Regions from separate parts of the Homo sapiens genome. Here region 2 is linked to region 1. Evidence: fine-mapped expression QTL. A gene starts in region 1. The other region holds a variant in brackets. All regions are shown on one strand. Distances are from middle to middle.

What was found. PIP is the estimated chance that this variant, and not a neighbour inherited with it, causes the effect. A credible set is the group of variants that fine-mapping cannot tell apart.
Region 2: its variant is the best candidate, but not a certain one, in a credible set for the expression of NMB in monocytes after Pam3CSK4 (Quach 2016, PIP 0.67).

Annotation. Positions count from the first base shown.
Region 1 is chr15:84,655,783-84,661,299 of GRCh38, forward strand. It overlaps NMB (neuromedin B), which reads right to left and starts at 2,417. Exons shown (of 3, transcript NM_021077.4): 1 at 2,214-2,417; 2 at 1,394-1,566. The coding sequence starts at 2,370. RefSeq lists a silencer at 2,373-2,532.
Region 2 is chr15:84,686,638-84,691,637 of GRCh38, forward strand. It overlaps SEC11A (SEC11 homolog A, signal peptidase complex subunit), which reads right to left. Exons shown (of 6, transcript NM_014300.4): 2 at 4,898-5,000; 3 at 988-1,137. Among named protein-coding and RNA genes, the nearest start is that of SEC11A, 27 kb to the right of the region's middle. RefSeq lists an enhancer at 1-350. The variant CAA/C (reference allele first, on the strand shown) is at 2,392.

The DNA.
Region 1 (5,517 bases):
GAGCTTCAAAACCAAGGGCATTAGAGGTGACATTGTTTCCCTTCAGACTCAGCCAGCCCAAGCTCCTAGGCCTTACATCTGAGGTCCTCAGGGGCTGCTGGTTCTGTGCCTCAGGAAGTCAGGGATGTTGGTTGAGGCTGGGTTGGACCTTTTCTAGGGAATGCCTCTCCCTTCAAAATGCACACACTATATGCTAGGCACACTGGGGGATATGAAGGCGAGTCTACAACAGGTGCCGCCAGGGAGCTCACAGACTGATAAGAGCTCGCATCTACTAAGGGCTGTCTATGAGCCAGGCACCATGCTGAGCATTTGACATAAATGGTCTCATTTAATGGGAGATGGGCCTTATTATCTTCATTTTATGGGTGAAGAATATTGAGGCTTTAGAGAAGTTAAGGGACATTTCTAAGGTCATACAGCTACTAAGTAGCTAGGTTATGAGCCCAGCACGTTGTAGTCAAAACCCACATTCTACCACATCACACTGCCTTCTGCACACAGCAGCAGGACCAGGGAGGGTGGTGTGCAGTAAGGACAGCACCAGGAGCAGGGAATGAAGGAGTTGCCACTCAGCGGGGCTATACCTTGAGGCTAGCTTGGCTCCAGCTTTGGAGTCTTGAATCCCATAGATCAGTGACTGACAACCAATAATGATTTGGGGCCCTCTCCCCCAGCAGACATCTGGTGATGTCTGGAGGTCTTTTCAGTTGTCACAACTTGATGGGGGGGAAAGATGCTACTGGCATCTAGTATGTAGAGACCAGGGATGCTGCCAAACATCCCATGATGCACACGTCAGCCCTCACAAGAAACAGTGATTCAGCCTAGAACGTCAAATGTACTGAAGTTGCTAAACCCTACCACTGGATACTGAGGCAGATGAGAGAATGGGAAGAGCTCCAGTCCAGGTGAACAAGGTCCAGACTCTGTCTTGGCTGCTGACTTCTCTTTCCCTCTCTGGGCCTCAGGGTCCCATTCCGGCCACAAGCATACACAGGACACAGCAAAGGTGGACTTGACTAATGCAGCAGGGAACAGCATGGGTGGGACAAGACTGTGTAGACTGGGGGAGAAAGGTCCTGCTCCAAAAGGCTGATGATCCCAGTCTGTTACTTTAGACTGGGTGATGAGTCAGGGGAACTTCTTTCCCTACTTCTTGCCCCATGGGGTCTACTGGGAAGGTCAGCTTCCTTTCTTTGGACTGTTCCTCCTTTGAGCTCTGCCTCAAGAGGGAAAAGCCTGGAAACCTGGCTTTCTGGGGTCCACACCCATAATGTCCTAGTCAGACAGTCACACCCTAATACAGTACTGGGTGGTAATTCCTCCCATGCAGGATCCGGGGATGGCCCCAGCTGGGCCCTCCTGACATTGGAGCAGGGGCCCGGCTCACCTGGATTTGGGGTGCGGGGCGGCTGAGGCTCACGCCCAGAGCCTTCTTTAGCAGGAGGATTCCGAGCAGATCATGACTCAGCTGCAGTCGCTGGTCCCTCAGGGAGGTGTGGGGAGCTGTCCCCAATGGGGATGGGCTGGAAGGCTCCAGACTCTTCTTGCCCATGAAGTGACCTGGAAAGGAGGTGTCCAGGCACAAGGAAGTCAAGCAGCCAGGATCCTACCTCAGAGGAAAAGTTCCTCATCTCTCCCACGTTTCCGTTCTTGTAGCGGGAAGACACTTAACCTTCCTCCTCTTGGTGCTTCCACCTCACCAAGGAGCCACAAAGGTGTCTGGGTGGTGGCAAAGCCTGCTCCCTCAGCTTTTCCTGAACAGGTAGAGAGGATGGCACAGCTGGCAGGAAGGTGGGATGGTCCAGGGCCAGGGAGAAACTCTGCTAGTTGTGTGGGCTGCTTGGACAAGGGACGAAAAAGGGCAGGGTAGGAAGTGGAGAGTGAAGAGGCGCCTGGAAAGTGGAGGTGCAGCAAAAACACACCAGCGGTTAGAAGATTCGGTTAAGTCTCGCCTAAGGTAAGGGGCACCGGCTGGCAGTGGGATTTAGGATCTAGCCCAGCCCTGTCTTAAACTGGCTGCGCGACCTTAGCCAAGTCACTGACCTGTCCGGGTCTCAAGTACATATCTATTAAATTAGATGAGCCCCAGGGTTTTCCACCTGCTCCGACACTAGTGTCCGTGGCTGAGGAGCGGCCAGAGGGTTGAGAAGGAAATGGGGTCTGAACTGGATGAGGGGCGCTTGCTTGCTCCGTCCCCAAAGACTTACCGGTGGCCCAGAGGTTGCCTCGCGAGTGCACTCGGATCTTGCTGGCTCGGCTGCGGGGCTCCGGGAGATCCCAGCTGAGCGGGGCGACGCCGGCAGCGAGCAGGGCGAAGAGCAGGAGGCTGCCGAACATCCGAGCGCCCCCCGCCCGCCGGGCCATGGCTGTGCCCGGGCCGCGGCTTCGTTCGGGCGCGCTTCCCGGCCGCTGGGCTCCGGGGCTGCCTTCGATCCTTTTAAATCCGCGCCCCTGGGGGCGGAGCCTGCCCTGAGCAGCGGAGCCGTGCCCCGCGCCCGCCGCCCTCCCCGCCGTCCCCACCCTCCCGCTAGGTTACCAGGCAGGGGCACCCCCTTTGGGCCGCCCAGAGACCTGCACACCCACACTCTGGCCCGCACGCGGGCACCGCTTCCGCCAGGGGCTTCTGGCGGAAGCCCGCCACCTTCAGGCTAAGGACCGGGCACCGGCCAAACAGGGGCCCGGCCCCGGCGGCGGAGCCGCTTCCCCTGGCCCTGCCTTGCCACTCTGCCACGGCTTTCGGCCAAATAGGCACTTCAGCCCTCTGAGCCTCTCTTCATGAGGGTAGAGGTCGGGCGAGGAGCTCTCCTCCCGGGTAACAGGCTTTTTTTTTTTTTTTTTTTTTTTTTTCTGAGACAGGATCTGGCAGTATCGCGCAGGTTGGAGTGCGGTGGCGCGATCACGGCTCACTGCAAACTCAACCTCCAGGGCTGGGCTCAAGCCTCAGCCTCCCCAGAAGCTGGGACCACAGGCACACGCCTTCATGCCTGGCTTTTTTTTTTTTTCTTTCCAAGAGACTGGATGTCGCTAGGTTTCCCAGGCTAACAGAGGCATTTTTACAGTGTCCAGCCAAGTGCTAGGCACCAAAGGACTTCCATAAACTAATCCCCATCACCTCCGCCCTTTGGGGGAATCTGACCCGTGTTCACCTTGCTCTCTGCCCTCTCACAGCCAGCATCACAGTCTGGAAATGTTCTGGCACACAGTAGGTGCTCAGAATGGGAATGCAGAATGATGGAGGGTGGGACAAAGGGCCGCTTCTGAGGAACGGGCATCCAGCTGGAGGGCCTGGCTTATGGGCAGGAAGCAGACCTCTGGGTCAAGAAAGTGGAAAGAGCACTGCACCCAGGACTGCACTGCACCCAGGAGTCCATGTACAAGCTGTGACCCGGCTGAACCTCACTTTCTTCAACTGTAAAATGGTAATAACCACACTGCCCTAATTTTAATACTTTTACATGTTTTAGCATAAGTACTCTGTGGCCGGAAGCAACAATTCTGTAGGACCTGCCCTCTCACACCTGGCACTTTGTTCTCCCCAGGAGCTGTCTGGACTTTCTTGGAAAGAACTTCTGGATAAGTGGTATCATATAATGAGCAGAGGAAAACACTGTGCTCCAGAAGAATACATTTATGTTTGCTTAATTAACTGAAACCCATTGTTCAGAGCACTACACTAGACACAAGAAGAGGGGCGACAGATAATTCCTTGCTCCCAAGGGAGTTAACCATCTCATTGGAGAGACAAGTACACAAAGGAGAGAGTGATGGAGGAGCGGGGGTGCAGACCACCCCTTGGACTCTGGATACCTCTGGAACACGGAACAGAGTGGCCGTACCAGAACCTACTCCCATCTGGCTTGATAATGGGACCTGCTTCTAGGACTCTTGCTTAGTATCTAGCTCAGCAAGGTTGCTAGCTCTGTGGATCCTCATCCTAGAAGGGGAAGCTCACATGAAAAACTGGCTGTCATACCCAGCTGGAGGCCCAGCTTCCAGGAGCATGACACACAGGACAGGGACGTTTCATTTCTGGCCCTGGCTTTCCCCCCAATCTCCTTGCTTCTCACCTCCCACCCTGGCATTTACACCTCTCTGCTTTCTTGTCACAGCTTAGCCATGGTGTACAGATATAGCTCTTATCACCTTCCGGTAATCATTCCTTTGTGACCCCCCTCCCTCTCCTCTGCATCCATCAAACCCCCATCCTATCTTCTCTAGTCCATGGATAATAGAAATTAGCGTGAACACACAGAAGCTGGTATTGATTGAGTGCTGCATCACTTAAATGCTTGAAGGAATCTTATTTGGTAGGTTTCTGTCTCCTCATTTTTATAGGTGGGAACAGGCTAAGAGGTTTAGCCACTTTCCCAGAAGTCCCACTGGAATCAGATTTCAGGTCTGTCTGGACCACTGCATCAGGCCCCCAAATCTATGCAGGGCAGATACAACTCTCCCTAAACCACACCCACTCCCATTGTACCATCTCAAATTTCAACACCAAGTTGTGTTTATGTATCTCAGGAGGGAGAGGGAGTGGGCACTGCATTTCGAGTTTCACCTCTCTTCCACAGGTGACTGGACCTTGAGTTCTGCTAAGGTTATTTATACTTAAGCCAAGCTTCCTCTGACACAGCCTGGGTTCACAGCTGCAGCCACAGCTCTGAGGCTGGCCCCAGGCACCCTTGGAACCATTTGCTCTGTCAGCCTACTATAGAAAAAAAAGGGGGGGGGCCTCTGAGGACCCTGGAGAAAACAGCAGGGGAGCACCTCCACAGACTTAGGAGCACTCACCTTAGGGAAAAAAATGGGAGGCACAGGGGAGAAGGTGGCTTGCTCAAGGGAGTGCTAGGCTCTAAGTTTAGCATGAGGACCTCAAATGCCAACTGCCTGTTCCCTAAGTCCACTCTGGTGGCAAGAGAAGTCCAAAGGCCTCCACTCCATGGGGAAAGGCTAGCATTGAATTGAATGGAGGTACGTGGGGAAGCTCTTCAGAACCCACTCTCGACCCTCCTAGGATTCTACAACATTCAAGGACATGCACAGAAAATGTGAGGCAGGTTCACAAAACAACCCATGGGGTAACTAAAAGGGTGAAAGATACATGGCAAATCCTATCATAGCTAACACCAGGAAAATATTTAAAGTACACCAAGTTTTTTAATAAAAAAATTGCTTCATCAAAAATAGCGATTAAGAATGGATATTACAGCCGGGAGCCAGGGCTCGCACCTATAATCTTAGCACTTTGGGAGGCTGAGATGGGCGGATCACCTGAGGCAGGAGTTCGAGACCAACCTGGCCAACATGGTGAAACCTCATCTCTACTAAAAATACAAAAATTAACCGGGCGTGATGGCAACGCACCTGTAATCCCAGGTACTCAGGAGGCCGAGGAAGGAGAATCACTTGAACCTGGGAGGTCAGGGCGGCAGTGAGCCAAGATCGCACTACTGCACTCCAGCCTGGGCAACAAGTGCAAAACTCCGCCACAAAAAAAAAAAAAAAGAAAGA
Region 2 (5,000 bases), 31 kb after region 1:
ATGCCTACTCTTTCACTTCTCGTCTGTGTGTCATACAGGATGCCTCCCTTTTCTTTCATTTCTTTCTTTTTTCTTTTTTGAGACAGGGTCTCACTCGGTCGCCCAGGCTGGAGTGCAGTGGCACAAACACGACTCACTGCAGCCTCAAACTCCTGGGCTCACACAATCCTCCCACCTCAGTCCTCCAATTAGCTGGGACTACAGGCACATGCCACTACGCCCAGCTAATTATTTATTTATTTATTTATTTTTTGAGATGGAGTCTGGCTCTGTCGCCCAGGCTGGAGTGCAGTGCTGCAATCTTGGCTCACTGCAACCTCCACCTCCCAGGTTCATGCAATTCGCCTGCCTCAGCCTCCCAAGTAGCTGGGATTACAGGCGCCCACCACCACACCTGGCTAATTTTTATATTTTAGTAGAGACAGGGTTTCACGATGTTAGCCAGGCTGGTCTCGAACTCCTGACCTCAGGTGATCCACCCACCTCGGCCTCCCAAAGTGCTGGGATTACAGGCGTGAGCTACCATGCCTGGCCTTTTTTGGTTTTGTTTTGTTTTAATAGAGAAGGAGTCTCACCATGTTGCCCAGGCTGACCTCAAACTCCTGAGCTCAAGCCATTCTCTCACCTTGGCCTCCCAAAGTACTGGGATTGTAGGCGTGAGCCACTGTGCCCAACCAGAAGATTCTATTTAGGATCTATCTTTATGTCATAGTTTTTTGGAATTATATACAGAGTCACTGACAGGTTGGGAAGTAAAAGGGAACAAAGAAAAACCTCTGGAAAAACCTTCAGGGAAAGAAATGAACTAATAAATAATTATTTACAGTTTTCAAAATGTTCACTAAACTTTCCAGCATTCATAAAAATGGACTGGAAGAAGGCCTAGAGGTTCCTCACTGTTTTACAATCTTTAGGCTATCAAAACTAAATACCACAAACACTTAAACAAAAGCACTTAGAAACAAAGATGCTATACTTTGCACATACTTTTCATGAATCTTCAAGACTCGGTGAACTATAGGAATCTCTCTTCCTTCTATCCTAAAAACAACAATTTCTCCCACTCGTATGGGATCTTCAACTCGATTTGTTAGAAAGAGAAGATCTCCTCTATGAAATGCAGGTTCCATGCTGCCACTGGAAGGGAAAGAAGAATATAACAGCAAAAAGAAAGTATGAGATTAAATGTACTTTCAAAATTAGATATTCAACAAAATAAAAAATATCACTTTGGGAGTATACTCAATACCCTAACAACTATATCAACAGAAATGTGTATTGTTCTCAAAATATGGTTTCCTCAGACTAAAAAGTTACGCCAAAGGATTTTTTTTTAGTTATTAACCTTCACTAACTAGTTCCATTTCAAGTATCACTAGTCAAAGAAGCTTAAATCTTGAAAAGGTCAGTGTTACTAATTCCTTAACCTTTTAAAATTTCAAATGACAAACAGAATATAAAAGAATGAACTTTAAAACAATGCCCTTATTCTCACTTCATCTGAAAACACTAAACATATTCAGATATGCAAATGAGAACTGGATCATCTTCCTCTGCCATTTATAAAGATAACAGCCAAGATGACCTTATATGTTCAACTCATTTAGAAGGAAAAATGGCTCATCAAGTCAAGGAACAGCCAGCTACAGAGATAAAGCTTGTGTTATCAATTTACTTATTTTAAAAAGAGAAAAAAAGAAAACCAAGGAATAAGCAGAGATTTTTGCCTAAGAATTTCCGAAGCCAGGAAAAGATTCAATTCCATGGTAACAAGTAAGACTAACTTCTACAGAGTATCTTCTTACCTCTTACCTCTTCCATCCTACGCCAAGTGCTGAAAAGGTCCTAAGATATTTGCACTAATTTATGAACCCCTTTTTATCTATAAAGAAGTAGCCCATCAGTCTTTTTCAGAAACTCAAGCTCCGGTTTTCTATAACAACAGCTTAAGTAAGAATAGAAAGACAAGAAATAAAGTTCAACGCAGGAATAAGTACAAACTCCAAACACTTTTGTTTAAAGACTCTCTTCCCTCTATGTAAAGGGATATGGCAGTGGGTCTCAAATTTTGCTGCACATTGGAATGACCTGAGGGACTTTTAAAAAATCTCAGCCAGGTGCGGTGGCTCACACCTGTAATTCCAGCACTTCGGGAGGCCGAGGTGGGCAGGTGACCTGAGGTCAGGAGTTCGTGACCAGCCTGATCAACACAGTGAAACCCAGTCTCAACTAAAAATACAAAAATTAGGTGAGCATGGTGGCGCACGCCTGTAATCCCAGCTACTCAGGAGGCTGACGCAGAAGAATCACTTGAACCCAGGAGGTGGAGGTTGAATGGGCTGAGATTGCGCCATTGCACTCCAGCCTGGGCAATACAGTGAGACTCTGTCT[CAA/C]AAAAAAAAAAAAAAGAAGAAGAAGAAAAGAAAAAAAAGAAAAGAAAAGAAACTGGGGGCCAGGCACGATGGTTCAAGCCTATCATCCCAGCACTTGGGAGGTTGAGGGGGGAGGATCACTTGAGATCAGGAGTTCAAGACTCAGTCTCTGTAAAAAAAAAATTAGCCAAGTGTGATGGCACACTCCAGTCTGGGCGATGGAGGGAGGCCCTGTGTTAAATGTTCTTATCACAAAAAAATAGAAAGGGAAGAAACTTTTGAAAGTGATGAATATATTCACTTGCTTGATTGTGATGATGGTTTCACAGGAATATACTTACCTGCAAATTGATCAAGTTGTATACATTAAATATGTACAGCTTTTTGTATGTCAATCATATCTCGATAATTTGGTTAAAAAAGAGTAATCTAAGTACTATTACTTAGGTTCTAGATAATGTTAATGCACTATTATTTAGATTCTAGATAATATTAATAATTCCATTTATTTTAAATATGCACTCCATTATCTCCAGAAAAGATCTGGGCTTACAAAATTAAGCCCAAAATATGACAAAACTGTAATGTTTCTTTTCTTTCTTTTTTTTTTTTTTTTTGAGACAAAATTTCAATTGTCACCCAGGCTGGAGTGCAATGGAGCGATCTCCGCTCACTGCAATCTCCGCCTCCTAGGTTCAAGCAATTCTCCTGCCTCAGCCTCCTGAGTAGCTGGGACTACAGGCGCCTGCCACCACGCCCAGCTAATTTTTGTATTTTTAGTAGAGATGGGGTTTCAACATGCTGGCCAGGCTGGTCTCGAACTCCTAGCCTCAAGTGATCTGCCCGCCTTGGCCTTCCAAAGTGCTGGGATTACAGGTGTGAGCCACCACACCCAGCCTATAATGTTTCAGTCAAACAACCAAGTGGTAATTCTCTAAAAATGAGTTACTAAATTAGGTTTTAAAATCACTAAGAGTGGTTGCGCATGGTGGCTCATGCTTGTAATCCCAGCATGTTGGGAGGCCAAGGTGGGAGGATCCTTGAACCCAGGAGTTCAAGACCAGACTGGGCAACACAGTGAGATCCTATCTGCTACGGTTTGGCTGTGTCCCCACCCAAATCTCATCTTGAATTCCCACGTGTTTTGGGAGGGACCCAGCAGGAGGTAACTGAATCATGGGGCAGGTTTTTCCTGTGCTGTTCTAGTAACAGTGAATAAGTCTCACGAGATCTGATGGTTTTAAAAAGGGGAGTTCCCCTGCAAAAGCTCTCTTCTCTTGTCTGCCGCCATGTGAGACCTGCCTTTCACCTTCTGCCATGATTGTGGGGCCTCCCCAGTCACGTGGAACTGTAAGTCCAGTAAACCTCTTTCTTTCGTAAATTGCCCAGTCTTGGGTACGTCTTTATCAGCAGCATGAAAATGGACTAATACACCGTCTCTACAAAAAAATTAAAAAATTAACCAGGCATGGTGGGGCAGGCCTGCAGTCCCACCTGCTCAGGAGGCTAAAATGGAAGGATCCCTTGAGACCGGTAGGTGGAGTCTGCAGTGAGTTATGACGGCGCCACTGCACTCTATCCTGGGTAACAGAGCGAGACCCCATCTTTAAAAAAAATATTCACTAAGAGTATGAGTGCAAAGATAGGGAAGGAAGCAGAGTGGAGAAAAAAAATTCAGTACTATTTGTCACCATAAGAGATGGTATTAATGCCTTCAAAATTCCTGGAGTCTAGTTTAGAAGTGATATTTAAAGGTCAGCAGGAAACTTGGAAATAATTAGTGATGATTCTATCCTGACATTGAGAACATGCTACAGAAAAACTCTTAATTTGTGGAAGTACTATAACATCTAATGAACTAACAACTAAATATCAGGCCTGGTGTATCAAAATGAGGAATATAAAAAGACAGAAGAATTTCAGGAAAATAAAGTACAACGAGACACTTTATTAAGGGATGTGACAAAAACAAACCTTAACATGGTAACTTTTTTGTAGAAAGGTCATGAGCCCTTTGGAGTTCTGAATGGAAATGCCTAACAAAGTAAGAATTTCTTTTCTCTCTTTTTTTTTTTTTTTTTGGAGACAGGGTCTCGCTCTGTCACCCAGGCTGAAGTGCAGTGGTGCAATCACAACTCACTGCAGGCCTCAACCTCTAGGGCTTAGGTGATCCTCCCACCTCAGCCTCCCGAGTAGCTGAGACTACAGGTCCATGCCACCACACCCGCTAATTTTTGTATTTTTTGTGGAGACAGGGTTTCACCACGTTGCCCAAGCTAGTCTCAAATTCCATAGCTCAAGTAATCCACCGGCCTCAGCATCCCAAATTGGTGGGATTACAGGCATAAGCCACCGTGCCCAGCCTGAGAATTTCTTACAACTGATAAGTAGTGACTAATTTTCTTCCAGGCCCTTTTCTGGAAAAGAGTAGTTTCTAAGAGAATGATATGCCAGTTATTTCATATCTCAATTTTTCTCCCAAGTAATGCCATGCAATTCCATGCCTTGAAAGGAAAAACTGTTACCTGAGCACCACTACAATCGGACTTTCACTTCCAGTTATTACCATTAACCCCTTCCAGATCATTAGTGCCGATGAGACAATCATTCCAAAATTTAGGACTTGAT